3 linked regions of the Homo sapiens genome follow. The protein of the gene in region 3 interacts with the protein of the main gene of each other region in a pairwise test. Each region holds a gene or a part of one and is shown on either strand. Other genes may lie near its edges. The genes, in order: FAH, SLIT1 and CHRDL2.

The links.
Region 1: the proteins of CHRDL2 (region 3) and FAH interact in binary tests that used the Homo sapiens proteins (3 or more experiments, as listed by UniProt).
Region 2: the proteins of CHRDL2 (region 3) and SLIT1 interact in binary tests that used the Homo sapiens proteins (3 or more experiments, as listed by UniProt).

Annotation. Positions count from the first base shown.
Region 1 is NC_000015.10:80,147,535-80,157,887, forward strand, and holds the start of FAH (fumarylacetoacetase), read left to right. Parts: upstream 1-5,464; 5' UTR 5,465-5,520; coding exon 5,521-5,601; intron 5,602-10,353.
Region 2 is NC_000010.11:97,180,817-97,191,641, forward strand, and holds the start of SLIT1 (slit homolog 1 protein precursor), read right to left. Parts: upstream 5,144-10,825; 5' UTR 4,859-5,143; coding exon 4,662-4,858; intron 1-4,661. UniProt on the Homo sapiens protein: Thought to act as molecular guidance cue in cellular migration, and function appears to be mediated by interaction with roundabout homolog receptors.
Region 3 is NC_000011.10:74,705,248-74,715,441, reverse strand, and holds part of CHRDL2 (chordin-like protein 2 isoform 2 precursor), read left to right. Parts: intron 1-1,962; coding exon 1,963-2,056; intron 2,057-4,074; exon of another isoform or gene 4,075-4,356; coding exon of another isoform or gene 4,357-4,450; coding exon 4,451-4,593; intron 4,594-7,046; coding exon 7,047-7,140; intron 7,141-8,899; coding exon 8,900-8,955; intron 8,956-9,863; exon of another isoform or gene 9,864-10,033; intron 10,034-10,194. UniProt on the Homo sapiens protein: May inhibit BMPs activity by blocking their interaction with their receptors. Has a negative regulator effect on the cartilage formation/regeneration from immature mesenchymal cells, by preventing or reducing the rate of matrix accumulation.

The sequences.
Region 1 (10,353 bases), on a different chromosome or scaffold from region 3:
GTGGCGCAATCTCAGCTCACTGCAACCTCCACCTCCCGGGTTCAAGTGATTCTCCTGCCTCAGCCTCCCGAGTAGCTGGGACTACAGGCACGTGCCACCACACCCAGCTAATCTTTGTATTTTTAGTAGAGAGGGGGTTTCACCGTGTTAGCAAGGATGGTCTCGATCTCCTGACTTTGTGATCCACCCGCCTTGGCCTCCCAAAGTGCTGGGATTACAGGCGTGAGCCACCACGCCTGGCCTTATTATATTCTTGAAAATTGCCAAGAGAGTAGATTTCAAATGTTCTCAGGACAAAAAAAATGAAAAGTGAGGTAATGTTTATGTTAAGTAGCTCAACTTAGCCATTGTGCAATGTGTACCTATTTCAGAATGACATGTTTTACATGATAAATATGTATAATTTTTATTTGTCAGCTAAAAAAGTAAAAAAGAATTCTCCAGGTGTTGTCCCAGACAGCCGCTGAGATGTGGAACACATCTGACAACAACAATCAGAATCCTGGTGAGGAGGGAGGGCAGGACAGAATGCTCTCACACAGGATGTTCTTAGACAGAGTCAATCTACTTCTCATGTTGCATGTTATACTTTTATGTACATTAGTGATGGGGAGGTAAGGAAGAGGAAAACAGGATTGCTGACATTTATTGAGAACTTTCTGTGTGTCCCACAATATGCTGAGAGTTTTTGCAGGGGTTTTCTTATTTGATCTTCTAAACAACCTTACAAGGCAGGTATCGTTTTTATTATTTCATTTTTCCAATGCATGAAATTAAGATTTGGTGAGGTACAGTAACCTAAACCCAAACTCAATATGAACGTTCTAGAAAGAGATTTCAAATCTTTCTTATTTGAAACCTTAACATATATATTCTTACAGCTGGGTGCAGGGGCTCACGCCTGTAATCCCAGCAACTTGGGAGGCTGAGGTGGGCAGATCACGAGGTCAGGAGTTCAAGACGAGCCTGACCAACATGGTGAAACCCCATCTCTACCAAAAATACAAAAATTAGCCAGGTGTGGTGGTGTGAGCCTGTAATCCCAGCTAGTTGGGAGGCTGAGGCAGGAGAATCACTTGAACCTGGGAGGTGGAGGTTGCCGTGAACCGAGATCGTGCTACTGCACTCCAGCCTGGGCAACAGAGCGAGACTTTGTCTCAAAACAAAACAAAACAAAACAAAACAAAACATAACAAAAAACAAACCAACAACAACAACAACAGACATATATATTCTGTTACCACATACTGTTTCCTTTTGTTCAACATCTAGGGAAAGGGCCACAAGGAAAAATCATGCCTAACCAACTTTAGTGTGTGTGTGTGTGTGTGTGTGTGTGTGTGTGTGTGTGTGACAGAGAGAGAGAGAGAGAGAGAGAAAGAGAGAGCGAAAGAGAGACAGGGAAATTTTAGTGTGGATTTATTGTTGACAAACTAAACAATGTTTGCAGAGAGAGGCACTGAGAATGATCTATTCAGCTGTGCCAAACAGGTTGAATACAGAGGTTGTAACTTATGTGTCAACATTCCTCTGTATTTCTGGGAGCAGAGTGGGATCCACAGCTATAGCTCAAAAAGGCACCGAACATTTGGATGGGAAAAAAGGGATAATTCAGATGGGAAAACTATTGAATATGTATTTAGTTATAAGAAAACAAAACAAAATTAGAAGTATTTTGTTGAAATAACAGTGAGGGAGAGTCTAAAAAGTGGCTCCTGCTTTGATAATGGTAACAGAGAACTCATTATATGGTACACATTATTAAGTCAGATGGCAATGACATGTTCTTTATTTAAGGTGCTGCTTGTTATTTGTGAGTCTTGCAAATCCAGCTTAAATCCAAAATGGATTTGAGGTAGTATTCCATCAGAACATAGACACAATAGTACCTGAAACAGACTAAAGACAGAATTAAAGAGGGCAGGAAGAAGAAAATTTATATTGCAGAAAACCTAGCCCTGGTTGAGCTGGTTCACCTAGGACTTCATCCAATCCCCTTCTCCCCACCCTACAACATGCACTTGCACTTGAATTACTTACGTTCAGTTCCAAGATCCTCTAAATTTTGAACTCCTTTGAGAGGACAGAATGTCATGTATATTTGCACATGACATATATTCTTGATACTAAAATGTACTGGACACATGCCAAACCCATGATGCCCACTACAAAATGTGTACCATAAACATCACTGAGCTCAGACCTGAAAAAGAGAGGACACTTACTTTGCTAAAGTGCTTGGCCTTTGACATAGTTTCCTCTTTTTCTTGACGACCATGCAGCAGTGCTGAATGTTGCAAAAAAGGCCACCCCATCCTGCTTCCCAGTGCAGGCAGCGTCCACACCTTGCTTATCTGAATGGCAACTGCCAGCTTCTCAGAGCCGTTGCAAGACATTAGTGTCCTGGATCTGGAAAGTTCTCTCTCAGCTCTCTTGTAAAGGAGTGAGGGACATGCTTTGTGTGAATGAGGGCTGCAGTGCAGTGTGTTGCTTTTTAGCATCAGAGGGAGGCATTAAATATGGTGCTACAGAGACCCAAACCAGCCTTCATTGCTGGAGATGCTGAAACTCACTGCGAGTCCTGAAAGTGTTCATACTCTTTGAGTCAGGAATCTTCCTTAGATAATTGTCAAGGAAAAGGAAAACATTCTGTGCATGCACCTCTTCATTGAACCGTTATTATTACCATCTAAAACATTGCGACTTCCTTAGCTAATGACAATGATCATAATAAAGCCTATTGGGCCTCAAGGAAAAATATTCAAGAGAATAAGGTAGGGAAAGACTGAAAAATTGCATCTATGTAAAGTTTATAAGGATGGAAAAGCCATGTGCATACAAATGGAATGAAAAAAAAACATGAAAATGAGAAGACTACATTGGTGGGATTATGGGCAATCTCTTTGTTTTAAAATTCTTTTTAAATAATTGTTGTGATATACGTGGCCAACACATTCTCTTCCAAAAAATGAGAAAGAAAAAATATAGTATACTTGCAAGTTATTTCAAATGCTGTTTTCCAAATAGAGAACAGCTTTGGCGTTTTCAGACACTGTGTATAATTAGTGGGTTGGTTAAGTCTATTTTAAAACTATGAAATCTTACTCCCTCTTTAGCCATCTCATCCCCACACCCTTTCCTACACATACATCTGCCCCATGTCCTTTCCCTAAAATACTTTGGTTTTCTTTCTCCAAGGGTTTTATCATTTAGGCTTTTGTTAACTTGTATGTATTCAGTAGAAGCTCCTGGCCTAGCATCCCCCACACAACACATGCTCCATAAAAACAGGAATTAAAGATGTGAGTTGCTGGTGTATCCCCATGGCCTGGCATAGGGCATGGGCTTATTAGTTATTGCTTCATTTCCTTTTGGTCAACAGTTTTATATTAATGACATGTATTTATGGAGAACCTATTCTGTGCCAGGTGTTTTGCTGGGTATTGACAGAGTTGCACATGGAATAAGAAAGCTCGTGGTTTTAATGGGAAGGGGCAGGGCAACTACAGAACGTGGAAATAATTCATTGCGTTGCAGCTGAGGACTAGCTTGAATTAGGCAGGTATCAAGTGCTCCCTGGAATGCCTCTTTATAAGGCCACCAAGTTGGGATACTCTCCTCTTCTTTTCCTCTTTCAGGAACCTACCAGAACAAATCAGACCACCTTCATTCCCTCCCCAGGGCTGACTTAAAAGAACTGAAGCCAGTCCTTGGCAGAGCCACTCAGGGCAGGAGATGAGAGCCAAGAGGCTGTGCCCAGATTACACTCCTTACTGGGTGATGATCACTGGTCACGCCTGGTGGACAGGCACCAGAGTGATCTCAGGGGCTAGGAAGGGGGGCTCAACAGCGGGCCCTGCTTGCCGTACTCGCTCCTCTCAAGCCGTCTGGTTTCAAGCCCACTTAGCTCACATTATCCTGCCATCTTCCAGCCTCTTCTCCCTAAGCTGAAATGCGGAGCAGCCTCCCTAACTCAGCAGTCACTGTGTCACATTCCTCAAGGATCTTCAGGGAACCCTTGCCCAGACTATCGTCTACTTTTCTAGATTTCAGCCGGCATCCTGGCTGTTTAAAAGTGTACCTGAATCATTCACACCAACAATAACACAACGACACACTCTCCGGTGTGTTCCAAGTGTCCTGGCTGTGGCATGGTCTCAAAAAACTGCAGCTGACTGCACATGAGTGATTAGATAACACCTTGAACCCACCCTAAGATAGTCTGCCTTTCCCTTCTTTCCTGTCTTCCTTCTTTTCTTTCTCCCTCTCTCTCTTCTCCTATTTCTCTTTTATCTTTCCTTTCCTTTATCCCCCTCCCCTCCTTTCCTCTTTTTCCCTCCCTTCTCTCTCTTTCCACACACACATAACCTGTATATGCCAGGCACTATTCTAGGTGCTTCACAAATATTAATTCATTCCATTCTTATATCAACTTTGTGAAGTAGGAACTATTATCATCAACATTATACAGAGAAGGAAGCTGAGGTAGAGAAAGTTTAAGTAACTTGTCCAAGGTTGAGCATCTTGTCAACGTCATTTTACTACTGGCATGTGAAACAGGTGAGTTATATTTTTTAGAATATTAATTCTCATTAATTGAAGCCTTCCAAACAGGCCTAACTGTCCCCTTCTCTGACATACAAGTGGAAGTGTCATAGCTGGACGGAGCATCATGGTATGAAGGCAGAAAGGACGCGACTGGGTGTTCTTCTGAAGCTCAGGGAGCAGCTCTTGGGGAGAAAGTGTTTCCAGGAAGCGGACAAGAGTTCTGTTGAGCTGAAGAGCAGGGCAGCAGCCGGGGCGAGCGAGGCTGGAGTCATGCAGGGCAGAGCCTTAAATGCTAAGCTGGGGTTTGCTCTCGGTAGGACCAGCTAGCTGCCCCGAGCGGGGGCTGGAACCAGATCTCCCCCACGTGGACTCGCGGACAGGGCGGGGATCAGGACGGGGGCGGGGCCAGGGGAGGGGCGGGGCTCGGGGAGTGAGGCAAGACTGGAGGGCCTGGGACTCTCGGGTACCCGGGCCAGGGGAGGGGCGGGGCTCAGGGAGGGAGGGAGAGACTGGATGACCTGGGGCTTGCAAGGCGGGGCGAGGGGAGGGGCGGGGCGAGGGGAGGGGCGGGGCTCAGGGAGGGAGGGTGAGACTGTGGAGGACCTGGGGCTCGCGGGGTCGGGGCAAGGGGAGGGGCGGGGCTCAGGGAGGGAGGAGAGACTGGAGGACCTGAGGCCCACGGGGGCGGGGCCAGGGGCGGGGCGGGGCTCTGGAAGGGCGGGCGAGACTGTGGAGGACCTGGAGCTGGCGGGGGTCAGGGTAGGGGGGAGGGGCAGGGCTCGGGGTTCGGGGGCGGGGTGTTCACGGTGAGACCAAAAGTCAGGTAGGAGCCTCCGGGGTCCCTGCTGTGTCACCCGGACAGGCCGTGGGGGCGGGCAGGGGGGCGGGGCCGGGCCTGACCACAGCGGCCGAGTTCAGTCCTGCTCTCCGCACGCCACCTTAGGCCCGCAGCCGTGCCGGGTGCTCTTCAGCATGTCCTTCATCCCGGTGGCCGAGGATTCCGACTTCCCCATCCACAACCTGCCCTACGGCGTCTTCTCGACCAGAGGCGACGTGAGCAGTGGGGCTTTGGCGTCCGGGCGCGGGGAGGGAGTGGAGTGGAGTGGAGTGGAGTGGAGTGGAGTGGAGTGGAATGGAGTGGAATGAGGGGCGGGATGGAGGCTTGTGCCATTTTTCTCTTAAGATTCGTTCCGTGAGAGTGCCTATGGGCTCGAGTCCCGCCTCGTAACTTTCTAGCTGTGCACGTTGTTTAACTTTTCAGCCTCATTGTCCGCAGGTTTGCTGAGAATTAAATGCAAAATGAAATGAATCGTGTCACTCTCCCAGACAAGCAGAGCAAGCAGGATTCTGTTACCGGAAGCTGCAGCACACAGGCATGCTGCCTACTCCGAGGTGGTTGCGGTGTGTTTCTCTCGCCCAAGAGGCCAGGTCAGGGCTGGTGGTTCATCTCGCTGGATAGCCCCTAACCCTAGAACCCGGGAAATGATAACCCGGTATGCGTAGCAGGTCAGAGGGGCACGCGCGTTTCTTGGCTTAGAGTTGTGAGATCTAAGATGGCAAGTGTCTCTGCCTATAGCTGAAATTCTTTCAGCTCCTGGTGTGGGCTCCCTGGCATTCCCCTACTGATCAGAAGAAAGAGGGCAGGGAAACAAACTTTGACTAAGTCAGTGTAGTCTGATTGGTAGAAAGAAGTATTTGAAAACTGGGGGTTTATCAGCAAATAGATAATAAGAGGTTCCCTAGGTTGGAAAAGCAGATTCCCTTGGATTTGTTGATGATATTTTTGGCTTAGATTTCTGCTCCCAACTTTAAAGGTAAACTCCTGATTCATCTCTGTAAGCCATAGAACCCCAGAATCAGGAAATGTTTGCTAAACGAGGGGCCTGGCAGTTGGCTTCTTCTTGGAAAGTGGGGTTCCCTCCTTCCCCCATGGCTTGTCATTGGATGCAAGTGGCTGGCCTTTTGTGGGCCTGTCTGCGGTAAGTGCTTTGGTCTAGAAGAGTCAACTTGTGGTTTCACATCTGGCCGGGCTGACCAGATGTTGCAAGGATACAGAAAGTGGACACTCAATCCCCTGGAGGACACAATCTGAGGCACATTAAATCTTAACTTGTGATGGCCAACAACCTTTCTGCAGACAGAGCCCTCCCTCTGCCCTCCTCAAACACTTTGCCCTCGGCAGATGTGTCCTCCCTCACCTTTCCTGGGAGCACAAATCCATTAGACAGAAACATTTGTGAGAGGCAGGCACACCCCAGTAGGGAGCTCTGACTTGCTTTCTCAGGGGAATCGAATTAATATCCGTTAGAGTGTGGCTAGGTGTTTTCAGACACCATGTCCCGCTGTTTCAACATCAGAATGTGCAGGGCAGCCACTACAGATGTCTGGAAGAGAGAGCCCCATTCCGCTGTCCTCTGATACAGTGCTGGGGGTGGAGAGTTGGCCCTTTGGCCTTCCAGCTGAACAAGCCTCTTCTGAAGCTTTCTCTGCAGGCATTGGACATTCCAACCGTGATGGCTGCCTTGCCAGGCAAGACTAGTTGCCAAGGCAAAACCTCCCTTCCCCCATGTCAGCAGTCAGCCTTTCCTAATTTGAGTGGAATAACAATGAATCCTGCCATCACTTTATTCATTTTTTTTTATTCAGCGAATGCTTATGAACCCCAACTCTGGTCCAGATTTTGCCTGGGCTCCGAGTTGGCATCAAAGACACAGGAGACGCCTTCCTTCCATTTCTGGTTGATGGACTAGTAAGGTGTACAGGGGTGCTCTCTGTGAAGGTAGGGGTGGTGGCCTCTGAGAACGGGGTTGTAGTAGTGTGGAGCTGGTTTTGCCGGGTGCCTTGTTAAAGTCCCCGTGGTCTGGCTGTGCTGCTGCCTCCTGGCCTCTGCTTTCTCCAGCCACATTGGCTGCCTTTGAGTCTCTGAGATGTGCTAAGAGCAGCTTCCTGCCTTCAGGCCTTAGCACATGTTGTTCCTTCTGCCTGGAATACTCGTCCTTCTGCTCTCTATATGCTTGGCCCCTTCTCACTCTTTGGGACTCAGCTTAAATGTCACCTCCTAAGCACCCTCTCTGAATGAGCTCCCCGCTGCGGCCCAGCCTTGGTTATCTCTCACCACACCCTGTGTTTCCTTTTGCTTCTGGAGAGAAGGAACCACGTCACTGTTCCCAGGGCCTCAGCAGCCTTTGTGTAATGCTGGTACTGAGAAGATGCTCTCTAAATCTTTGTGGCATGAATAGCGTCTACCCTGTGTCTGTTCTTGTGGTGAGAGATTTACAGATATTAATTAAATTCTCACAATAAACCTACTGTGAAGTTATTGTCCCCATTCTACAGATGAGGAAACTGAGGTCCAGAGAGGCAAAGCATCATGCTCCAGATCTCACAGCCAGTAAGAGGCAGATATGGGGTTGATCCCCACATCTGTCAGCCTCCCAATCTGTAAGGTCCAGCCCTACGGGGCTTAGCGGGTTTTCTCCCTGTGTGCGGAAACGAGAGATTGTAAGAAATAAAGACACAAGACAAAGAGATAAAGAGAGAACAGCTGGGCCCGGGGCACTGCTACCACTGAGACACAGAGACCGGTAGTGGCCCCGAATGGCTGGGCACACTGATATTTATTGCACACAAGACAAGGGGGGCAGGGTAGGGAGGGTGAGTCATCCAAGTGATTGATAAGGTCAAGCAAGTCATGTGATCATGGGACGGGGGCTCTTCCCTCTAAGGTAGCCGAAGCAGAGAGGGAAGGCAGCATAAGTCAGCATTTTCTTCTATGCACTTATAAGAAAGATCAAAGACTTTAAGACTTTCGCTATTTCTTCTACCGCTATCTACTACAAACTTCAAAGAGGAACCAGGAGTACAGGAGGAACATGAAAGTGGACAAGGAGCGTGACCATTGAAGCACAGCACCACAGGGAGGGGTTTAGGCCTCCAGATGACTGCGGGCAGGCCTGGATAATATCCAGCCTCCTACAGGAAGCTGGTGGAGCAGAGTGTTCCCTGACTCCTCCAAGGAAAGGGAGACTCCCTTTTGCGGTCTGCTAAGTAATGGGTGCCTTCCCAGGCACTGGCGTTACCGCTTGACCAAGGAGCGCTCAAGCGGCCCTTATGCGGGTGTGACAGGGCTCACCTCTTGCCTTCTAGGTCACTTCTCAGAATGTCCCTTCAGTACCTGACCCTATACCCACCGGTTATTCCTAGGTTATATTGTACTACAATAAAGAGTAATATTAAAAACTAATGATTAATAATGTTTATACTAATAATCGATAATTGTCCATGATCATCTGTATATCTAATTTGTATTACAACTGTATAGCAGTATAGCTACAGTTTATGCCTTCAGTCTCTTGCCTCGGCACCTGGGTAATCCTTCGCCCACACCAATCCCATGCTTCCCCCTCTATGTCAGGCTGGGAGTTGGGTAATGCTTTCCTTTGGACAACTTTATATCAGATATGACCAACTATTTTAAAACAAAGGCAATGCACATTCATTCTCTTGAAGTTAGACAAATGCGGTCTCCCTCCTTAGTTTGTTTCCCTCAAGTTGCAGATGGGAAACTGAGGCCCAGAGACTTGTCCAAGGTGATAAGATGGTGAATGAGGGAGCAGACTTGGAGCCCAGGAATCCTGGATCTGACCTGTGAGCCCCCTCTAGTTTTGTGCTGAAGAAAATAACTCCCAAGGTTGAAAGTAGAGGGACTCACTCTCTCAGACTTTTTCTGGGTCCTCAGGTCATAGTTTGAAGCACAAGTTTGAAGCTTCTAGGCTTTGTTTGCATTTGAGGCAGCAGGCAGCTGCACTTGTGACCCCATTTTGGAAGTTGCTTACTGGTGGTGACTCCTTCTTGCCTTCAGCTGGGGTGTGGGGACCAGGGTCAGAGATGTGGTCCAAGGGTCTGCCCTGCACATTCCCTGAATGGAAAGCCACTTGGATTCAGGTGGTTCAGCTCTTTGCCTAAAGCAGATTTGCCATTTTCAGGAGGGGAAGACTGAGGCCCAGGGAGTTGGCAGTGGGGCTGAGAATGAGTAACTAAGCTCTCCAGGCAGCCTCTTCTAGGGTAGGCTCTGCTGGGACCTCAGATGAGGAGTATGGCTCTGGTCTACCCCGATTCCAAGAGCTGACATGCGTGGAGAAATGGTCATCTTTTCTCAGCCCACCCCAGTGAGCAGCCAATGGAGATAAGGCCAGCCAATAATCCCACCACTAAGCTCGCTGGCACTGAAATGGCCAAGCTGGTGGTTCAGGAGAGCTGGAAGCCTGGCTCAGGACAGAGCCCTGGGAAGTTGAGTCTGCAAACATGCCCTCGGGTTCTTGTTGACGAGCAAAGCTCAGGGTTGTGGGGACAAAGACCAGGACTTAACAAATATTTAAGACATCTTTGTTGATGCTGGGATTTTGTGGTACAGAAAGGAACTTGCCTTGCATGTTCTGAGCAGTCTGGCTTCCTGCAGCTCCCTTACAACCCGAGCTCTCCTCCATTTGAGCTACAACAGAGCTCATTAATCCAAGCCACCTGGCCCTCAGCACTGTGTGTTGGGCACTCATGCTCCACCGCACAACTGAACTACCCTAGTCAAGGCCTAGAAACCTGGAAAATAATCCAACATCCTGGTAAGGTGGTAAGCTCCTCATCACTGGAGGCATTTATGTAATGCCTAGGGAACTTTGCAGGGGTCTTTGCCCAGGTTAAGTGGCTAGGACCAGGCTGACTGCTCTTCCCCCAGTCCAAGGGATATTTGATTTCTTTCCCATTCAGGGAACACAGATTATTTTTCCTTTTAGTTCTGGAAGCAGAGAT
Region 2 (10,825 bases), on a different chromosome or scaffold from region 3:
CCCGAGCTCTCTTCTGCCCCACCCAAACCCTCGAGCCTCTAGCTTGAGCTTCCCAAATAATAACAATAATATCCTAATGATTGAATCACAAAGCATTTTCACAACTGTAGCATGAGTGAGTGCACAGGCCCTTTGAGGTAGTAGGTGTTATCAGCCCCAGAGGCCGAGAGAAGGGCGAACACCAGCCACTTACCAAGCGTGGCACGCTGCCTCACTTACTCCTCACTATCAACCTGCACAGCTGTCGTCGTCCCGTTTTACAGATGGGGAAACTGGGTCTCAGAGCAGGGAGAGGCACGGCACGGGGGTCCTAACACCAGTCATTCAGAGCCCAGCAATAAGCCAGTGGGCCAGTGACCACACCAAAGCCTAAGCAAGCAGGAGACTCTTGCCCTGCAGGGAGGCACCTCCCCTACACAGCGCAGGCCTCTGCTGCAGGAGACCATGGTGGCCTGCTCAGATCCAATCGGGCCCTGATGGCAGATGTGGCTGCAGTGGCCCCTGACCTCATTTACCAAGGTCACCATCCAATTATTATTTGGAATTTCAAACAGGCTCCCCAGAGGATCAGCCTCAGGTGCCCTGGGCAGCCTTCCTTATGCGTGACCACTCAGCCCTGTTAAATGGGACCTCTAGCTCAGGGAGTTGAGTCTAGAGAGGGCCTCCCAGGCCTCTACAGCAGGCATGGAGATAGGGCAGGGTGGACGAACTGGCAAGGAGGGAAGGGCACATAAGGAGGACGGCAAGGCTGGGCATGGTGGCTCATGCCTGTAATCCCAGCACTTTGGGAGACTGAGGCAGGAGGATTGCTTGAGCCCAGAAGCTTGAGACCAGCCTGGGCAACATAGCTAGATCCCCATCTCTACAAAAAAGGAAAAAAAAAGACCAGACAAGCAGCAGAATGTGCTGGGCCTGGAGGCAAAGAGAGAACAGTAGGCCTTCCCAGAGGCCCTGCCTGCCTCCCTCCATCCTCGGACAACTTACCCTCTCTGCACAAGGGGAACCTTCCACAAACCTCAAATACCCAGGATGCCCAGGGCTGGGGGAACCAGCGATGTCCACACATACTGCACTCTCCTGTCACACTCTCCTGGACACTCAAAAGATTTTTTAAATTAAAAACCAAGTCCAACTGAAAGTCAAGGTCGTTGTGGAAGAAAAAAATAACTTAATGGTGACCATGGCTGGGTCTCTCTGCGCCTGGGCAGTACAAAGAAAGGAAGCTTCCCGGGCCGCCTCCGCCACCTCTCCCAGCCCTGGCTCTGTATTTTAACTGTTCATTACAGTGAATTATTTAGCATCCCTTCCCTGCCCAGCTGACCAGCCCCACAGCCCCTCTGGCTGAACCAATTTCCTCAGCAGCTCTGGGGCCTACCCAACCTCTTTCCAGAAGTCCCCACAGCAAACCAATGACCATTTCTTTCCATTTCGGGGGACAGGCCTGGACCCAGAGTTATAGAATATATGATCATAAAGTTGCTGGGCCTCGCAGGCTGCCGCAGAAACTGCCCAAAGGACAAAAGGCAAATGCACAGCTGCAGTCCATAAAAATTTCACAGCCTCAGAAGAAGCCACTGTTTCAGGCTCTGATACTGCACAACACTCATATTGATTAGAGAGAGCATTTGCCACAGTTATTTTGAGTCTGCCTGGGCTCTCACCAAGGCCTCTTTCAAGATGTTCTTTTCCTCTTTGAGCAGCTCTTTCACGGGCTGCCTGGAGAACAGGCGGGCTCCCTGCGCTTTCCCAGTCCAGGAAGCTTTGCCCACATGGCAAAGATCAGACCTGCTCCACTTCCCCAGGATAACTCACCCCTGGCTTCCAACTAGGAAGTTCCCAGAGGAAAAGTTCACATATAGAAAGTCTTCCTGACCCTTCCCAACATCTCTTTCCAGCCTCAAGTCCCATCCCACCCACTGGCCACTGGCCAGAGCATGTTTCAGCCCCAGGGACAAGCTGGTCCATCTGCCCATATCGGGCCAGGCATGCTTACACCCGCAGGTTTTTGGCTCATACTCACACCTGCTGGCTTTTTGCTTATGCTCACGCCTGTAATCCCAACACTTTGGGAGGCGGAGGCAGGAGGATTGCTTGAGCCCAGAAGTTTGAGACCAGCCTGGGCAATATAGCCAGATCCTCATCTCTACAAAAAAGGAAAAAAAAAAAAAGACGTCTGCAAGAAAGCAGGCCCCATGACCTGACAAGCAGCAGAATGTGCTGGGCCTGGAGCCCAGCTGTTCCCTCTGCCTAGATTGCCTGCCCTCTGTGCTTGGCAAAATCCAAACCAACCTTGATAAAGTGGCCCATCCTCTGAGAAACCCCTTCACCCTGGAAAAGGGCTTCTCACCCCAGTGTTCCCACAGTCCGTTCCCTGAGGCTGCCTGGCCCTCTCCTGAGAGCTCACCATTAGAGGTCCTCTGCCCAGTTCTCTAGACCATGTGCCCCTTGAGGACAGGGATGGGCTCACTCCCTGCTGACGCCTCAGCACCCAGGGCAGTTCCTGGCTCCGAAACATTTGCTGAATTAAAATAATGAGATTCCCCTCCCTATCCTATCATAATAATGGCTCTCGTTTAGCGAGCATCAGAAGGTACCAGGCAATTCCCATACATGATCTTCCATCCTCACAAGAACCAGAGACCTTATGTAGCCTCAGCCCCATTTTCCTGATGGAAAGCAACTAAGGTTCAGAGAAGTTAAGTAACTTGCCCAAGGTCACACAGCTAATAGGTGACAGAGCTGGGGAACCAGGCAGTATAGCTCCCAGAATGCCACCTCTTTCCTCTGTACTAGGAAATTTCATTTTCATCTCACTCTGATCACAAAAGAGCTAAAGAGTTCATGGAAGTCTTAAACACTAAAGGTGGTGAGAGAGTAAAGAGGGAGGAGATGACTTTAAGACTCAAGATTCAAAAGCAAAGAAGAAGGGCTAATGTGTCTTAGATCTAGGCTGCAACCAGGGTAGCAGCTTCAGGAGAAACTCCAGTGGACAAGGCAAGGGGAGCAGGGAGCAGGTACAGAGGGGACAGGCATGGAGGGTGACCAGGCCACTGCGGGGGTCCTCTGGACAGATTTCTGACCCTCAGATCCTCTCTGGGTCCACACAGGATAATGCACACGCTGCCCACAGAAACTCAGTTTGGTACCACCTCTCCCCAGCCCTGTAACACACAAGCATTCACACACACACATACACATGCACCACACACACACACACACACACACACACACACACACACACACTTCCCATCTAGATTGCATCTAGATTGCAAATTCTCTAAAACCTCCACGGGAATTTTTCAGATGCAGCCAAGAAGAGTCTGGGGCAAATGTGTGCTCACTAATTGCTGGCCTTGGTACAGAGTCTGATTCGGGAGACAGCTCTCCTCAGGGTCAGATTTCTGTCTCTGACCAGCTGGGGGCCATGAAAATGTGCTCGAAAGTTATCAAAATATGCACACCTTTCCTGAGAGCCACTGCAGTCACCGAGGAGTGTGGGAAGGAGGAGTAGGTAGGTTTCAAAGGAGCCAGCAGCCTTCTCCAAAGCCCTGTTCAAAAATCTCCTGGTGTAGTCACCTCTGCGAGCAGTACAAAGGCCCTGCATGTGACCAAAATCTACACACACACAGCCCATTACGGGGACTCTCATGGCCTCACGCTATTAAGGTGGCCCCTTAATACTAGGAATTCACACAGAAACACATTCTGCAGGAGAGTCACAGAAAACAAAGTATAAAGGTCTGTAAATACACACACTCAAACACACCCAAACACACACACACACATTCTACTAGCTTACTGGGTCTAGAAAAGAAAAGGATCAAGTTTCCTCAAGAATTCACAAGTGAGACAGAACAGGGGAAGAGAAATGCTATTTTTTTATTACTTGTCATGGTCAATATCTTTAACCTTGGGCCCCCCTCTCCAAGCTCCTGACTTCTTGGCATTATCCACCGGGTTCTCCATCCAAGACACACCTGCCCCTTTTCGGGTGCTGAATGTTACATACCCCAAGCCCCATACCCAAAGCCCTCAGGTCCCATTGTCTGCCTGTGTTGGGGATGGCTGGGTGTGGAGGGAGGCGGGTGAGTAGGGGACCAACGCGTGGCACCTGCAGGGGAAGAATTCTCAAGGCTCTGGGGCAAACAATGGAGAAGAAGGGGCAGACCAGAAACTTCGCCTCCATCCCACCCTGCTGCCCTTCGTCAGGAGCAAGCTCTGGGAGCGGGAATCTGCGCAGCTGGCTCAGAACGCGGCCGTAGCCCCATGTGCCCAAAAGGAGACATTGTGCTTGGCGAGTGTGGGAAGTGTCCCTCCTGGGTGCAAGGAAGGCTTTCTGACACCAGTTCGCAGGCACCCTGGAGGAATAAAGCGCTGGCGCAGTGAGGAGGGCCTGAGGGTGCGGAGTGCAGGGTGCAGGGTGCAGGTGTGAGGACGGAAGCTGACAACCCCGCCGAGGGCCCTTTGAATCCCAGGGATGGGGAAACCACGGCGCTCCTGGCTCCTGGCTCGGGAAAGACCCCGGCAGGCACTGACCCGTCTGTGGGCTGCGGAGCCCGGACGGGCCCCAATGGTCCTGCCCCCACCCCCAAGTCCGGAATTGCGTCTGGGTGGGAGGGCAACCTCGGAGCCAGGGAGCCAGGGGCGGGGACCATACTCACAGGCGCTCGGTGTTCCGAGGTATATTCTTGGGAATGGCCTGCAGCCCCGTGCCGTGGCAGTCCACCGTGGTTCCGGTGCAGGTGCAGAGGGCGGGGCACGCCGAGGCACCCAGGCGCCACGCGGCTGCCCACAGCAGCAGCCAGAGCTCCGGCCGGACCGGCCCCGCCGAGGACCCCCACCCGGGAGTCAGCGCCATGGTGCCCTCACAGCGTCCCGCTCGCGAGCCAGACGGCAGCAGCCGCTGACCATCCCCGTCCGGGGCCGCCTCCAGGTGCAGTCCCGGGGCAGAGCCACCGAAGAGCCCGCGGGCTTGCGCGCGGCGCCCCTGCGGGCTGGGAGGCACCTTGCTCCTCCAAGCGACGGCGCCTGTGCGCGGACGGAGGGAGGGCGCCTTGGGCGGAGGGGGCTCGGCTCCTCTGCCGTTTCGCCGCCTGCGTCTCCCTCTCCCTCCCTCCAGCTCCCAACTGACTGCTGCGAGGAGGAAAATGGGCAGGCCCCGCGCGCGCACGCACCCTGCGCACACACCACACACACACACACGATCACACACACACCCGCGCGCTCGCTCCCACCCGGCAGTCATCCATCAATCGAAAAGCACACATCCAGGGCCAGGCTCCTCCCCGCCCTCCCCCGCCGCAGCCCCCCTCTCCCGACGACCACTCAGCGGCTGCAAGCCGCCTACAGTTTCAAAGGTGGAACCTCCGAGGCGCCGTCAGCGGGCACGGGGCTGCGGGGGATGGGAGAAGAGGGAAGGGGGTGTGACTCGACCCGCCAAGTCCTGGCTGTACACACACACACACACACACACACACACACACACACACACACACGGCGAGGATGCGCACATTTAGACGCACGCACCCCGGCACCCGCGGCCCCAGCTGCTAGTCCAGGGTGGGAGGGAGATCTTATTTTGCCGCTTGGACGCCTTCCCGGGGAGTCAGACCCGTTTCCCCCCATCCCCCGACGGCAGCAGCGGCCTCTCGGCCCCACCCGACTCGCTGTGTCAATTCTTGGTTAAGGGAAACCCTGTGCCTGTGCCCCAGGTAGCATCCTCAAGCCACCAACCTTACTTAGCCTGGACTTTGAGGATGGAGCTTTGTCGGGGGGGAGGGTCCACGAAAGCGCTAGGCGGAGTACAGTCTCCTTCCTACCTCAATGCACCCACTTCTCAGAGGGGAACAAGCTAGCCGCATGCCCAGGATGAGAATGGCTCTGATTGGAACACTTGCTCAGCAGGGCGTATTTGTACCATACAGTTACACGGGCTTCTTCCCCCGTTGTAGAAGAGAGGGACAGACATTAAGGGGACTTGGAAATCTGGCAAACGTCTTCCTCCACTCACACCAGCGTTCCTCCATTTCTGACAGGTGGAAACAGATGAAAATGAATATTCCATCTTGACATCAAAGGAGACAGAGAGGGCTGGCATAGCGCTGGGCGGCCTGCTTGGGAGAGAACCCCACAGGCCAGCCCCGTCAGACCCAGGCCTCACACCCGGCTGGGTAGGGACCTTCGTCACCGTAAGGCATGTGTGGACGTGGGTGTGAACGGGACATCCAGGTGGGGAGAGAATTCTCCTCAACCCCAGAAAAGACGAAAGATCTCCTCAACGCCAAGGACAGCTGTGGCTCGCTGGGGCAGTGTCCAGCAGTCGGGGCCTTGACGTGAGGCTGCTTGGCAAGAGGACACAGCTGGGTAGCCCGAGAAGCACCTCCCGTCTCAGGAGCGGCCTGGGTCCAGACACAGCATGGACGCATTTGGTGGGGAGAGTGTCGGGCAGGGTGGGGATAGGGGAGGTTGATAGACTCCACAAGGTTGAAGCCTTATCACCCACCAGGTACCCAAGGCTCAGGCGTTTTCTTTGCTTTTCTTTTCCATGTTGATGAGAATTTTGCAGTCTCTCTACTGTCATAGCACAGTATGTTACAATTTAGGTGGCTGATTTTATGGGCTTTTGACAGTTCTTTTAAAGTTTTCACACATCCCTGTCCATGACCTCCATCCGGTAAGTGGGTTCTTGAGCATAAGTTCAGTTTCTCAGGGGGCAGGGCTTTCTCAGGGGTGCCTGTGTGGTGGGATATTAGGGAAGCTTCCCACAAACCAGGCCGGAGTCTGAGAGGGCTGCCCCTGCCCTGCAGCTCACCAGCTCCTGCTCCATGGGGCCCCAGCCCCTCTATCCATGCTCTCCCCGCAGCCTCAGAGTGACATTCCTCCATGCCCGCTGCTTTGTTTATCCCCTCTTAGTACCTGCAGCTGCTTCTCCACACCCCTGCCCACCCCCTGGCATCCTCACTCGCTCACCCAGACACACACCCCAGCACCTGGCACTTAGTAGGCCTGTCACAGACAGCACTCAGGCTGTTGAAGATGTCTCCAGCCTTCTGCTCCAGCAGTAGCTCCCTGGTCCCAGGACCTCGGAGGGCCCCTTGGAAGCCAAGACCCATGTGGAGAAGGGAGAGAGTGTTGATTAGCCAGGCGACATGCCCCTAGGTCCTCAGAGTGACAGAGTGAAGGGGTATGAGGAAGGGTGGGAGTGAGCAGGGGTGCAAGATCAGCCCTGCCTATGGCTCCTGAGAACCAGCCCCTGCCCTAGAAGCTTCCAGACCAGCCTGGACAGTGAATCCCAAGCAGGCCCTGGGCTGAGTTGCTGCTGCCTGGCAAAGCCTGGCTTTTCCTCTGAAGGGAGGGAAGGAAGGAGCCCCCCAGACCCAGGACAAAGACTCCCCCAGCAGCCCATCACAGGGGGCCCTGCCCAAGCAGCGGGCAGCTCCCCAGCTTGGCTCCTGTCCCTGGTTCCTCCACCCCAGAACCTGGCCAGCTCCCCAATTCAGGAGGCGGCTCGCCATGAATGAGCGCAGCTCATTAGCGTGCCCGGCACATTTACTTGTTAAACAACTGCCTGGCTGGCCGCACACCCCCAAGCCCCACTCTGTTTTTTCAATTTCCTCTCCCATGCCCCTCCCTCTCTTGGGTCTCCCTACCCCCTCCCTGCAGCCGGGCCACCTGCTCCCGCTGCACGGGTGGGGAGGAGGCAGGCCTGGCACATTGCTTCTGCCAGGAATACTCCACCAAGCCTGTCCCTGCTCACCTGCCACCAGCAGGGCAACCCCCTGGAAGGGAAATTTGAGGTTGAGTCTCCCCAGCCCAGTGACGTGAGTCCCCTCTGAGTCCTCTCAGCCACATGTGCTGGGAGTTGAGGGCCACTTCCCCCGTGTGACTCAAGAAGAGAGCGTTCTCTTTATGGCTTCTGCACAGAGTCCTCTCTCCCACCGCCACCAGCCCCTTTTGGAGCACCAAGAAGCGGGAGAACCTGGGTGAGGCTGAGGAGCATTGTGGGATGGATTTCCAAACTGCAAAAAGGAAAAGTGAGACAGAATGCCTTCTAAGTAGACATCTGATAAACACCACTTACGGAGTATCTGTGTACTACATGTGCTGTACTGGAACTCAGCAATTCAACAGGGGACAAGAATGGCCCTGGCCCTCAGTGGGCTCACTGTCCGGTGGGGGCACAGAAACAGGAAGCAGGAAAGCATATTCATTTGGGTGTCAGCGAATGTGGAATTGCAGAGAACCCAGAATGAGGGCACAGAGTGGGGCTGGAAGGCTCCCTGGAAGAGGAGGCACTTGAACTAGGTCTTGAAGGATAAATAGGCATTCTCTGGGCAACAAAACAGGAAAAAAGGCTCTCTCAGCAAAGAGAAGCACTTGAGGCAAGTCACACAGACTGGGGGCAGCATTCTCAATGGCTGAGCTGGGGCACGTCCAGCAAGGCTGGATTGTGGCAGGGGGTTCAGGTGGGGAGCACAGATGGAGGTTACAGAGGTAATGAGGACACACCCCAGAGGCCCTGGTGCAGCCTTTCTCTGGCTTCACTGGGCTTTCAGCATCACCTGGCCTGGCCCTGTCCTCAAACACATGTCTATATATGCATGGGCTTGGAAATGCACCACCTCTGGAACCAGTGTCTCTGGAACCTGGTGCTTCCAGGGAGGTGACTTGGGAGGTAGCAAGGAGAAAGTTGCAGCAGATGTTTCTTTTCTACTGTTTGGGAGGTTTTTTGCTTGTTTTTTGAGATAGAATCATGCTGTGTTGCCCAGGCTGGAGTACAGTGGCACAATCATAGCTCACTGCAGCCTCCAACTCCGGGGCTCAAGCGATCCTCTCGCCTCAGCCTCCCAAAGTGCTGGGATTACAGGCGTAAGCCACCACACCCAGCCTTTGTTCGGATTTTTTACCCTGTGTGGTAGGAGCTAATTTCCCCCTACCAATACATTTTAACCCCCCTGGGGTGCTTATCATACATGCTGATTCCTGTGACCCACCCCCGATCTTCCCAGTCAGAACCTTCAGTGTTAGCAAGCTGGGAATGGGGGGTAGAGGCGGTGCTAATTCTGATGCAGGTGATTCCAGAGACCATGCTCTAAGAATCAAGGCCTGGTGTGCTGAGTTATGAGTTTGGAATTAGACTGAAAACTCTGGGGAGCCATTGAAGGAAGGAGCCTGGCAGGGACAATGGATCTGAGGCCCACCTGCCTTCCTCATCTCCAGGTTCCACACACCATTAGCAAGGATGAGGCATGTGAAAGAGAAAGATGGTCAAGGGAGAGTGGCAGGGGAGTACAAGATGTCAGAGCTGGAAGGGGATTAAAAAATGATCAAATCCAAGCACCAGTAAACAGTTAGAAGCCCAGAGAAATGAAGCAACCAGCCTGACCTCACAAGGCAAAGGAGCTGCAGAGGTGGGCCGTGAATGAGGCCACACACCCGGGCAGAACACAGCATCCAGTCCATCCTGGGCACTCCTCCTGGCCCTGCCACCACAGGGGAACTACGAAAACAGGAGTCTCTGGGAAGTCTGTGCCAGCAGGACTCATGATATCTTAGCTTTAGTCTCTAAACCCCTGGCTATTGTCAAATTTGGAGGAGGCTGAATTGTTGGAGGCTCTCAGTGGCAAAGCCTACAGCAAGGACAAGCTCCTAGACTAAAGGTCAAGTGGCGTTTATAGCCCAGAGGCCATCATAGGCATCCAAGATAACTCTGGTAAATAGAAGCACTGGAAGCAAGAGAGAAGCAAAGTGGGTGCTGGGGTGGGAGAAGAGGAGGAAAAGAAAGGCAGAAAGCAGGCAGACAGCCTGCACTGACAGCAACCATTCATCTATTCATCAGACATTGATTGCATGCCAGCTGAGAGCCACGCACTGGAAATAGAAGAGATCTGTGCTTTGGGTTCACTGGGTTTCCTGTATCTTGTTCACAGTTTTCATCAAATTTAAAGTTTTCAACCATTATTTCTTCACTTTTTTTTGTTCCCTCCTCTCTTTCTTCATTTTTGGGGGCCCCATTTATACATAATTAGGCCATTTGGAGTTGTCTCATAGTCCATGGATGGATGATGCCCTGTTCCTTTTTTTAGCCTTGTTTCTCTCTCTCTTTCGTTTTGGTGAGTTTCTCCTGGTGTATTGTCGTGTTCATTATCTTTTCTTCTACAGTATCTAATCTGCTGTTAATCCCATCTGGTAATTTTTTTTTTTTTTTTGAAATGGAGTCTCACTGTCACCCAGGCTGGAGTGCAGTGGCACAATCTCAGCTCACAGCAACCTCCGCCTCCCGGGTTCAAGCGATTCTCCTGCCTCAGCCTCCCAAGTAGCTGGGACTACAGGCGTGTGCCATCGTGCCTAGCTAATGTTTGTATTTTTAGTAGAGATCGGGTTTCACCATGTTAGCCAGGCTGGTCTGGAACCCCTGATCTCAAGAGATCTGCCCACCTCAGCCTCCCAAAGAGCTGGGCTTACAGGCCTGAGTCACCGTACCGGCTCCATCTGGTACAATTTTTATCTCAGACATTGTACTTTTCATCTCTAGAAAATCTACTTCGGTTTTTTTTTTTAATCTTCCACGTATCTTCTTAACATGCTTATATTTTCCTCTACCTTAGTGTACATATGGAATATAGTTGTAATAACTACATTACCAATTCTATTATATGTATCACTTCTGGGTTTGAAATGATTGATTACTTTTCTTCTTCATTATGGATCATATTTTCCTACTACGTAGTCCCCCCTTATCTACATAGGGATACATTCTAAGACCCCAGGTGGATGCCTAAACCAAGGATAGTACCAAACCCTATTACATTATGTTTTTCCTATA
Region 3 (10,194 bases):
AGTAGAGACGGGGTTTTGCCATGTTGGCCAGGCTGGTCTCAAACTCCTGACCTCAAGTGATCCTCCCACCTCGGCCTCCCAAAGTGCTGGGATTACAGGCGTGAGCCACTGTGCGTGGTCCTTGCTTACTTCTTTAATAGTCTATCTTTCACTGTTAGGATGTGAGCTCCGGGAGGGCAGAAACCTTGTTGGTCCCACTAATTCCTAGTGCTCAGAAGAAGGCCTGGCACCCAGTAGACCTGCAGCAAGTATTGAGCGTGAATGAGTCCACGTCTACCCACCAGAGGCAGCTCAGCATCGTGGAAAGTACACGGGCCCTGGTGACAGTTTTTACATGCTTTGTGATCTCAGGCAACTTAACCTTTCAAGGCTCTTTTCTCATTTAGAAAGTGTGACTAATAGTATAGTATCTACCTCTAGGGGTGTTGAGAAGACGAAGTGGGATGATTTTTATATAACGTAAAGGCCCTACCTCAGTAGCCACTCAATAAATGGAGGCTATGACTTTCCTGAGAAGTTCCCTGTGACTGCAAAGGGCTTTTCCAGGTGCCTCACCTGCCCTTTCACCGCTAACCTGTCTCCATCCTGTTTCCTGCTTCGTGGTGCTAATAATCATCGCCATCCTTGGCTCCTTCGAGGCCAGAATCAAGAGACCGATTCTAACTCTTCAGGCCACACAGTCCCTTGCACTCCATCCTAGTTTCTCATCTGGGAACCTCAGATGTCTAGTGTCTGGTTTATCCTCTAGACATTTATTAAGCACCCATGTGCGTTGGGCCTCTAGAAGGCCCCTATTAGAGCTCAGACCAATTCTGTGGACTCTGGGATTCCCCTTAACACTGACTAGTTCTCGCGATTACCTCTGGCCATCTTGGGAAGCAGTGACCCCAGAAGGCGTAGGGCCAGTCAAGGGTCTTCCATGGGGCAAGAGGCTGCCTCTGGGAGAAGTGCTATCAGGGAACTCAGGTCCAGGGAGAGGGCAGGAGGAAGGAACCAGGGGGAGAAGCGGGGCTAGAAACAAACTTCGCCAACTTCAGAATTGTGAACAAAGCGGGCTTCCTTCATCTAGGAGAGGACCATCAACCCCTCCTTTCCTTACTCTCATTTATTCACTCACTCATGCATCCATTCAGACTCCAGCAGCCACTAACTTGGAGCAAGGCCCCATTCTTTGGAATTCGTGGTTGAATCGGTGACACAGGTGTAAATGGTTCATCACAATGCAGCAGAGTGACCCTTGTAACAGAGTGAAGAACAAGGTGCGGGAAGGCTGAGGGGCCAAAAAAAAAACTGCCTGGAGAGCTGGGAAGACCCCCACGAGGGGTGGTGGCCACTCTGCCTCGGTTTCTGCTTGTCTCTCTCTGCGTATGTTCGCCTGCCCAATTCTCTCGCTTGCTATGCTTAAAAAAGAGAAGGAACTTCAGGCCCCTCCTTCTCTGGTGCCAACTCCAAAGGCTTTGTCCAGGATTACCCAAACCTCCCAGAGATTTAGGGGGTGGATCATAAAGCCATCCGTCTTCTCCACATGAGGTTTTCAGTCTCACACCCCCTCCCAGTCACCTGTCCTCATGTTTCATTCCTTTCTTGACCACAAGGCTCAGGCCCAGAGTTAAAAGGACCAAGCCCTAGAGTTAAAATAGTGCAGTCAAAGCATCAAGATCAATGTCAAACAACTCTAGGCTTACATGTCTTTCTCTGGGAAGGGGACAGTGTTTAAGCAAGTCCATGACCAGAACTGACCTCCTTCAGGGTAGGGGAGGCACATGGATATGTGGGCCAAGTGAGATCCCCTTGGTGGGCAGGAATGGGGAGGAACCGGGCACACTTAATTGTTTTCAGTCCAATCACAGGCTTACGACAAGTTCAGACTTCTGCAGTTGGGGTGGGAGTTTTGGGAAAGGACAGGTACAGGTGGAAGACGATGGTTCTTTGAACCAGGGCTGACCCTTGTGTCCCCTTCAGGGCGCCCATGTGAGTTGTTACCGCCTCCACTGTCCGCCTGTCCACTGCCCCCAGCCTGTGACGGAGCCACAGCAATGCTGTCCCAAGTGTGTGGGTAAGTAGCCATGCTCCTCCCCATCGTCCATGGACCTTTCTCCTACTCCCAGTGTAGCCCTCTAGCTGAGGGAGACCCCTGCAAGGAGAGGGGCAGTCTCTACCCATCAGAGGTGTAGACACACAAAGGTGCTCAAGGGAGGAAATATCCCAGATCCCCAGGCAGTGCTGGGGTAGCAGAGACTTCATGTCCTTAAGTAGGTGTGCATGGCAGGGGAGGGAGGACATGCAGAAAGGAGCTGCAGGAAACAGGGCCTTGCTTGGGCTGCTGACTGGCACACTTAGGCTCCAGTCTCCCTTGGGCCTTCCAGAGCTGGAGGGTGTGGGCGCAGTCTGGGAAGTGAAGGTGAGTGATCTTGGGCTTGAAGGTCCTAAGGGGAGACCCCAGAATTACCACTGGGGGAGCTCAGAAGGACTAAAGGAGTCAGGCCCTGTTCTCTGAGATTCCTCCCACTGCTGAGATTCAGGGACTCTATGTGTCCTGATGCTAAATGTCTATGATTCCATGATTTTAAGATTCTAAGAGCCTCTGAGAATAAGATTCTAGGAAGAAGAAGTCAGAGAAAGGAGAGGTGGTCTAGGAAGAAACTGGCAAAACCAAGTGTCCAGTGAGGGGCAGCCAGAGGGGAGGCCAACTTGGAGGTGGGAGGGGAGGTTGAGAGGAAAATTGATGTTTAGAAGCATCAAGAAAGTGGTGAAGAAGAGGCTCCAGATTTTGGCCTCGGGTCGGGGCTCTGGAATCAGGACTTTCCTGGTGAGCTGGTATGGAGTGGGGCTCATTTTCCAGGGGGGAGCCCAGTAGGGATCTGACTCGTGGCCCCTACATGGGTCATAGAGATTCCTGGCTGTGGGTCCCCGGGGGGACAGTGGCTCTCAGCTTCATCCTGCACAGTGAGGGAGTGTCCTCATGTCTGATGCCGACTCTGGGGGGCCTCACCTCTCCTTGCTGACTTTGGGATTTTCCCCTGTGCTTGGCCCAGGCCTCTTGTTGCTAAAACACTCTTCACTCCCTCTCTCTTCCCATCCCCTGCCCCTGTGCCTGCTTGGCTCCACAGTTCTTCAAGACTCTGCTCACCGTTGCCATGCCATCGGCCCTTCAGGAAGCCTTCCCTGGCCATTCCTCCCCGGCTGAGTTAGAGGCTCCTCCTCTCTGCTGTCACAACTTCTGTGCTTCCATCCACCCTAGCCCTCACCTGCTACAGCATCATTGCTTGTGGCTTGTCTTTCTGCCTAATTAGATTTCAAACTTCTTTTTTAAAAATTAAAAAAAAAGTTCTGGCCAGTCACGGTGGCTTGTATCTGTAATCCCAGCACTTTGGGAGGCCGAGGCGGGCGGATCACAAGGTCAAGAGATTGAGACCATCCTGGCCAACATGGTGAAACGCCATCTCTACTAAAAATACAAAAAAATTAGCTGGATATGGTGGCATGTGCCTGCAGTCCCAGCTACTCAGGAGGCTGAGGCAGGAGAATTGCTTGAAGCTGGGAGGTGGAGGTTGCAGTGAGCTGAGATCGTGCCACTGCACTCCAGCCTGGTGACAGAGCAGGACCCTCTCTCAAAAAAAAAAGAAAAAAAGGAAAAAAAATTTAAAAAATGTTGCCCAGGCCAGTCTCGAACTCCTAGAGTCAAGTGATCCTCCCACCTCAGCCTCCCAAAGTGCTGGGATTATAGGCGTGAGCCACCTCACCCGTAATTTTTGAGTCTGAGTTTCTTGGTGGCAAGGGCTAAATCTTACTCATTGCTCCATTCCCAATGCCTAGCATGGTGCGTAGAACAGAGGAGTGCTTAGTCAAGGGGTCTTGAATGAATGAGTGGGCTCTCTCAGGACCAGAGGCTTACCCCTCCACCTGGCAGGATGAGGACGGACTGATGGGCAGGTGATGGGGAGGGGGGCTCTGGGGGCCAGTGAATGACAGGAGTTTACCCAAGCACAGGGACAATCATGCCAGCTGGCACCACTAGAATGTAACCCTGTGAGGGCAGGGACTCTTTTGCTCACTGCTGTATCCCCAGCACCTAGAACAGTGCCTGGCACTGAGAAGTGCTCCATGAACCCTCATTAAATGCTGGATGAACTAACTCGGGCCCCACTGAGCGGAAGCTGAGGCTGCCGGCTTTACCTTCTTGCTCTGGTTGGGGCTGGCCCAGACACTGAGGGGGCTGGAGGGCTGTGGTAGAGGTCATGGGAGGGAGGGACTCAGTCAGATGTAGGTATCAGAGGGACCTCTTAGTTAGCTGATAAGGGGAATGGCTGGCAAGGCCCAGGCCAGAGCTTGGTTTAAATATCAAGCTGGGGTCAAATGCAAAATCATCAGAAAAGTGGCCTTGTTAATTTCAGCAAAGATTCACATGAAACCTCATTTTCTTCTTCCTCCTGCCCCTCCCCCACTGCAGAACCTCACACTCCCTCTGGACTCCGGGCCCCACCAAAGTCCTGCCAGCACAACGGGACCATGTACCAACACGGAGAGATCTTCAGTGCCCATGAGCTGTTCCCCTCCCGCCTGCCCAACCAGTGTGTCCTCTGCAGCTGCACAGTAAGAACTCCTGCCTTCCCTTCAGCACAGGCCAGCGCTCTGGGCCTGCAAAGAACATAGTAGCCTGGACTGCGGACTGGGGGGATTGTTCCTCCTGGCCAAAGCAAAATGAATGGGCTCAGGGGAAAGGGAATATCTGGGGTTTGGAATGTCCTGTCCCTAGCTGGGTCAGGTGACCATTCTCTGAGCTTCCACACCTTCCTGAGCCTTCTGTTTCCCCCAGTAGACGCTGCATTCCTTGAGGGGAGGAAACATATGTTTTTCATTTCTTTATCCTCTGCTGTCAGTCCAGGGCCTAAAGCACAAAAGACATCTGTAATGATTATTGAATGAGAGAATGAATACGCAAATGATCAGTTATCAGTCCTGGGGGACAGAGACAGGGCCAGATTATCTGTAGCAAATGGAAATTAATCTGAAGCTACTTAAACTCCTCCTGCCTATTGTTAGAGCTGGACCTCCGGGCAGGCAGGGCTGACTCGGCAGTGTTATCATGGGACAGAGACTGAAGCTAAGCAGGGCCTCCTCTGGAAAGTCTTCAGCCTCCTCCTTGTAAGGGAACTGGGGTGTAGGCATGGCCTTCCTATAGGTTTGCAGGTGGCTTTCCGCGTGTCATTTTTTTTTTTTTTTTTTGAGACGGAGTCTTGCTCTTTCACCCAGGCCGGAGTGTAGTGGCGTGATCTCGGCTCACTGCAAGCTCCGCCTCCCGGGTTCATGCCATTCTCCTGCCTCAGACTCCCGAGTAGCTGGGACTACAGGCGCCCACCACCACGCCCAGCTAATTTTTTGTATTTTTAGTAGAGTCGGGGTTTCACCGTGTTAGCCAGGATGGTCTCGATCTCCTGACCTCGTGATCTGCCCGCCTCGGCCTCCCAAAGTGCTGGGATTACAGGCGTGAGCCACCGCGCCCAGCCCAGCATGTCATTTTTAACCCTGGGCTTGGCAACTCATCCGTGAATTGGCAGGAGAAGTCCCTGCCCTCCCGATTTATTTACTACCTGATCACCACACTTGGGCCTCAGTTCCTCTGAGTGCGTAAGGGAGTCTGACCAAGTGATCATTAATGTTCTCTCCAGACTAGTATCAGAAACCTGTGTTTGATCTCCAGCACTGTCCCAGTTCCCTGTGTGACCTCAAACAAGTCACTTCTTTTGGGCCTGCCTCCCTATCTTTTCAGTGACAGGGTCCCATCAGTCTGAGTCTTTGAATCTTAAAGTTTCTGTGCTGCAGAGCAAACAGCCTGCAAATAATGAGGAGTGACTACTTATAAATCAACCTAGTAAGCAATTACCTTTTGCAGGGTGTGAGCCTTTTGCAGTGGTCTAGTCTGTTGTGTCACCAGGTTCATAGAAATGCCTGGTTTATAGACAGTACCCGAATGACCCTAGGAGAAGGATATCACTATTTCTGTTTTCCAGATGAGGAAACGGGCTCAGAATAGTTAAGTGACTTGCCTGAGATCACACAGCTAGTAAGTGACAGAGCCAGAATTCAGACCCAAGGCCACCTGGCTCCAAAGCCAATGTTCTTTTCCCTGTGTCCTGCTGCCTCCCCTGAAGGGATGAGGCCTGGATGAGGAGGGGGCTGTGGCGAGAGACAGAAATGCTGGGTGGTGGGTGGTGAGAGCATTCCCAGGATTCCTCTGTTCATTCTCCCTGGGTACTTGGGCCTCCCCTTCTTCCTTCTCATCCCTGATTATATGAGGCTGGCTTTTCTTCTGGCCTCACCCGAGGGACCGGAACACTCACTTCTCAGACCCTCTGGAAAGGGAACAGGGAAAGGTCTCAGGGCAATAGTGCTTCCCCCCAGGCACGTTGTGCCTTGTGCTTTTCACAGCCATTCCCTCACTGGATCTTCACACCCCAAATGGGTGTGACCCCACTTCACAGAGGAGGAATCTCAGGCCCAGAGGAAAGAAGTGACCACCAATGGTCACCTGGCCCCTGACCCCCAGAAGGCCCCTTCCCCTGCAGTCTTGCCTTTCAAGGCTGGATCCCAAAGTTGGAAACCAAGGGCTTTCAGTAAAGAGCAAGATGAGCCCAGGTATCACCCACCTGTCCCCCTCCCATGATGTTGATTTCAGTGGGAAAAGCTTGAAGACTGGGCCCCAACTGTCTTTCTAACCTGAGATGGCTCAGGCCCCGCTCCGGCTCCTCATTTGTAGGATAGGGAGATTCCCGCCTTACCAGGCAGCAGCTAGGGACAGCCTGGCTGTGAGTGAGTCAGAAGCTGAAGGCTGGATGTTACCTGCAGGGCCTGGAAGTGGGGCTGGGAGGGCACGGGGGACCCCTCCTCTGAGCTGGCCGGGCCTTGCTGTGGAGATGCTGTTGCTTCCCCTCCCCACCATAGGAGAGACCTCAAGGCCATTTGCTCCCAGGGAAGGGGGTGTTCCTAGCCCCCAAGGCTAGCCCTTATCAGAGCTCATTTCCCAGCTGGTTTGCTCTATCTGTCAGGAGGGCCAGATCTACTGCGGCCTCACAACCTGCCCCGAACCAGGCTGCCCAGCACCCCTCCCGCTGCCAGACTCCTGCTGCCAGGCCTGCAAAGGTGAGTCTGTCCCTCCATCTGGCAGCACTCACCCACCCCTCCACTCCATGGGCCTAGCCATGGACTGTGAGAGCCGTGAGGAACTGCAGGTGACACCCAGCATGTAGCAGACGGCTCTTTCCTCCAGGGTGTGGCTTAGCCTGCACCCCCCAGAAAGCAGAGCCTGGCAGAAGCTGATGTGTTACTTATTTTTATTGCAGTCATTGGGGGAGGAAAGAGGGAAAGGCAGAGTGAAGAAGGTAAAGAGAGAGAAGCAATACAGGAATATGTCCAGGGGCTGGCCTCTGCTTGCTAACCAAGCAAAAGTGACCTATTGCTCTAAGTAGTCTCTGCTTCTCAGAAAAGTCTGGGCGTGGTAGAGGAAGCAGTAAGAATGTGTCCACCAGCCACCAACTATCTCTCCATTGAGCCCAAAGCTCATCCATGTGTGGGACTTCCCTGCTGTGCATGCATGGGTGGGTGCTAAGTAGCCCTGGGAGCAGAGGCAGGAGTGGGCTGGGGTAAGGAGTGGGCGCAGGGGATGTGGACAGGAGCTGCGGGCTTGAGGGAGGGGCACTGTGAGGCTGAGCCTGAGGGAAGTGTTGGGGAGCCCGTGCAGGGGGGCTGCTGCTGCAGTGCCTGCCATGGGGGGACAAAGTCCCTGCAAGCAGATGAGCTGAGAGAACCATAAGTGGCACGTGAGAGGGGTCTAGTACAGGTAAGGACTACGTCTCATCCTGCCTTCCTGACGGCAGAGCTGGTCACAGTATTGGGCTCACCAGGGCTCAGAACATGTCTTTTATACAGAACCCAGGTAGAACCTCTTATAAAGCAGGGAGGCAACACATCAGCTAGCAAAGGGCAGGCTAAGCGTGAGCAGAATGAAATGGTCGGACTGTTCCCTGCAGGCTGAGGTAGTCAAGGAAAGCCTCCTGGAGGAGGTGGCACTCAGGTAGGGGAGTGCTCCACAGTGGATGCATCCCCAGATGTTTGCATTTTGGAAGGAGCACTGGACTAGGAATCAGGTGACTCCAGTTTAGTCCTGGTTCTTCCAGCTAACTCCATAAATTCCTTCCCTTCTCTGGGCCTCAGTTGTGCCCTGTGATTTCTAACACAGTCTAATTCCAATGTTCTGGGTCTTTGAAACGGGAATGATTGGTGGGAATCAGACTGTGGAGTGAGGCAAGAGATAGGGAGAGAGAGGCCCACTCGGGTTTAGGAAGCTGCAGGGCTCCAAACGGCTTTGTGTGCTGGTTTCCCAGGGGAATAGGGACTGGCAGGGTGCTCAGGCTGGAGGGGCGAAGGGGCTGGAGTGTAGGGTCCTGGGAGTGTAAACCAAGGCCTGCTGACTTCAAGTGTGGCTGCCCAGGAAACTGCATCTATGCAGGCTGCAGGGATGGGATTCTGGGCCTTTGGGCCATCCATGGTAAATACTGAAAGGTATGGCCCAGTGTCCCAGAGAGGTGAGTTTCAGTAAGGACCAAACAAGATGCTCTGTTTCAAGGACTTCAGTCCTAATGGTTACCAGGAGGTCAGTACAGGGAAACTGAGGCAGCAACCCAGTTGTAGGGGACTTCATCAACCCAACCAGGATGAAGAGAGGCTGTAATGGGAAGTGGAAGAAGTCCCCACTGGGGCAAAGGAGCTGGCTAGTGGGCTGGGGCTGCAGATGGGACAGCAGGCCTTGGGAATGGACAGAGCCTATAGGTGGAGGCCTCAGGGCTCTAGCCAGCAAGGCTGGGGAGCCTGAGGCTGACCCAGCTTCCCTTTGAGTTTTCAGATGAGGCAAGTGAGCAATCGGATGAAGAGGACAGTGTGCAGTCGCTCCATGGGGTGGTGAGTGCACGGCCTTATTGACGGGGTGCGGGACAGGGGGCTGGGATCCAGGGCCTAAATCTCGTGACTCTGGGGCAGGCAATACCAGTTATTGTCCTCATTTCTTGTTTGTCCCCTGGGTTGGCTACATGAACATCCACTATATTCCAGCCCCTCTCCCTAGCCTCCCATCATGGGTCCCATCATGGTTGATGGATAAGGAGTGGCCTGGGGGAAACAGGTCACCACGCAGGGCAGCAGCAGGCCCCAAACTTCCTCACTTTCCTCTTGAGAAACACTTTGACACTGTTCCATCTACAGCCTGTGTCTCCCCTTAATTCAGGCAACCTTCTTCCCAGGGAATGGCCTCTAACTTGGGCCAGCCTTCCCCACCCAGTTCCTGAGGTACTGGCTCTTTAGAGCCTGCCTCTCTGTACCCCCCTGTATCTTGGCCCCTCTCAAGCTTGGTCTAGGTTAAGATGGGCTTAGCTGGACAGCTGTCTCTGATCTGAGAGGAAGGAGATAGAGAATCACACATTGATTCAAGTCCCTGATGGGTCCTCTCTGCTATGTCTGCCACATGAACAACTCCACCTGCTATTTCAGCCTGGGTCTCCTGGTCTCCGGGAGACTAGAGGCTGCCTCCCCTTCCCAGAGATTCCCCAGAAGCCTGAGCCCATGTCCACACCCTTCTCCTCTGCCAGCTCATCCTGCTGCCCTCCCCACCCAGGCAAGGCCTTCTCAGGTGGGGGCCTGAGACCTGAGAGCTGAGGGTACCACAGGACCTAAGCCATTCCCTCCACTTTCCTTCCTGTCCTCTTCCTAGGAGGCAGTGCGTAAGTGAAACCCACCCAGGCTGAGTTCCAGGCTCTGATCAGCTACTTACTGACGGGCTGGGTGACTGGAGCAAGCATTAGGAGACTGAGCTGTTTGATTCCCTCTTGCCTTTATTCCACTCAACACACATCTCCCAGGAGTGTCCTATCTGCCTGAGCCCGTGCTGGGGCCTGGGACAGTTTCCACTCTGGGAGCTCTTGTGAGCTCAGGCTCTGGGCCATCGGAGAACTGATGCAGGGACTGTACCAGGCAGGAATGGGCTCTAGAAGAAGGAATGTGTGTGGCTCCAGGTCAGCGAGGGAGGTAATAGGCTCTGGTCCCTGCCCCAAGCCCACTTGCTCCTCTCCTGTGGCCGGGAGCTGCCCAGTCCCCAAACTCTGAGCTGTCCTCGCCACACTCCTATTGCTGTCACTGACAGCCCTC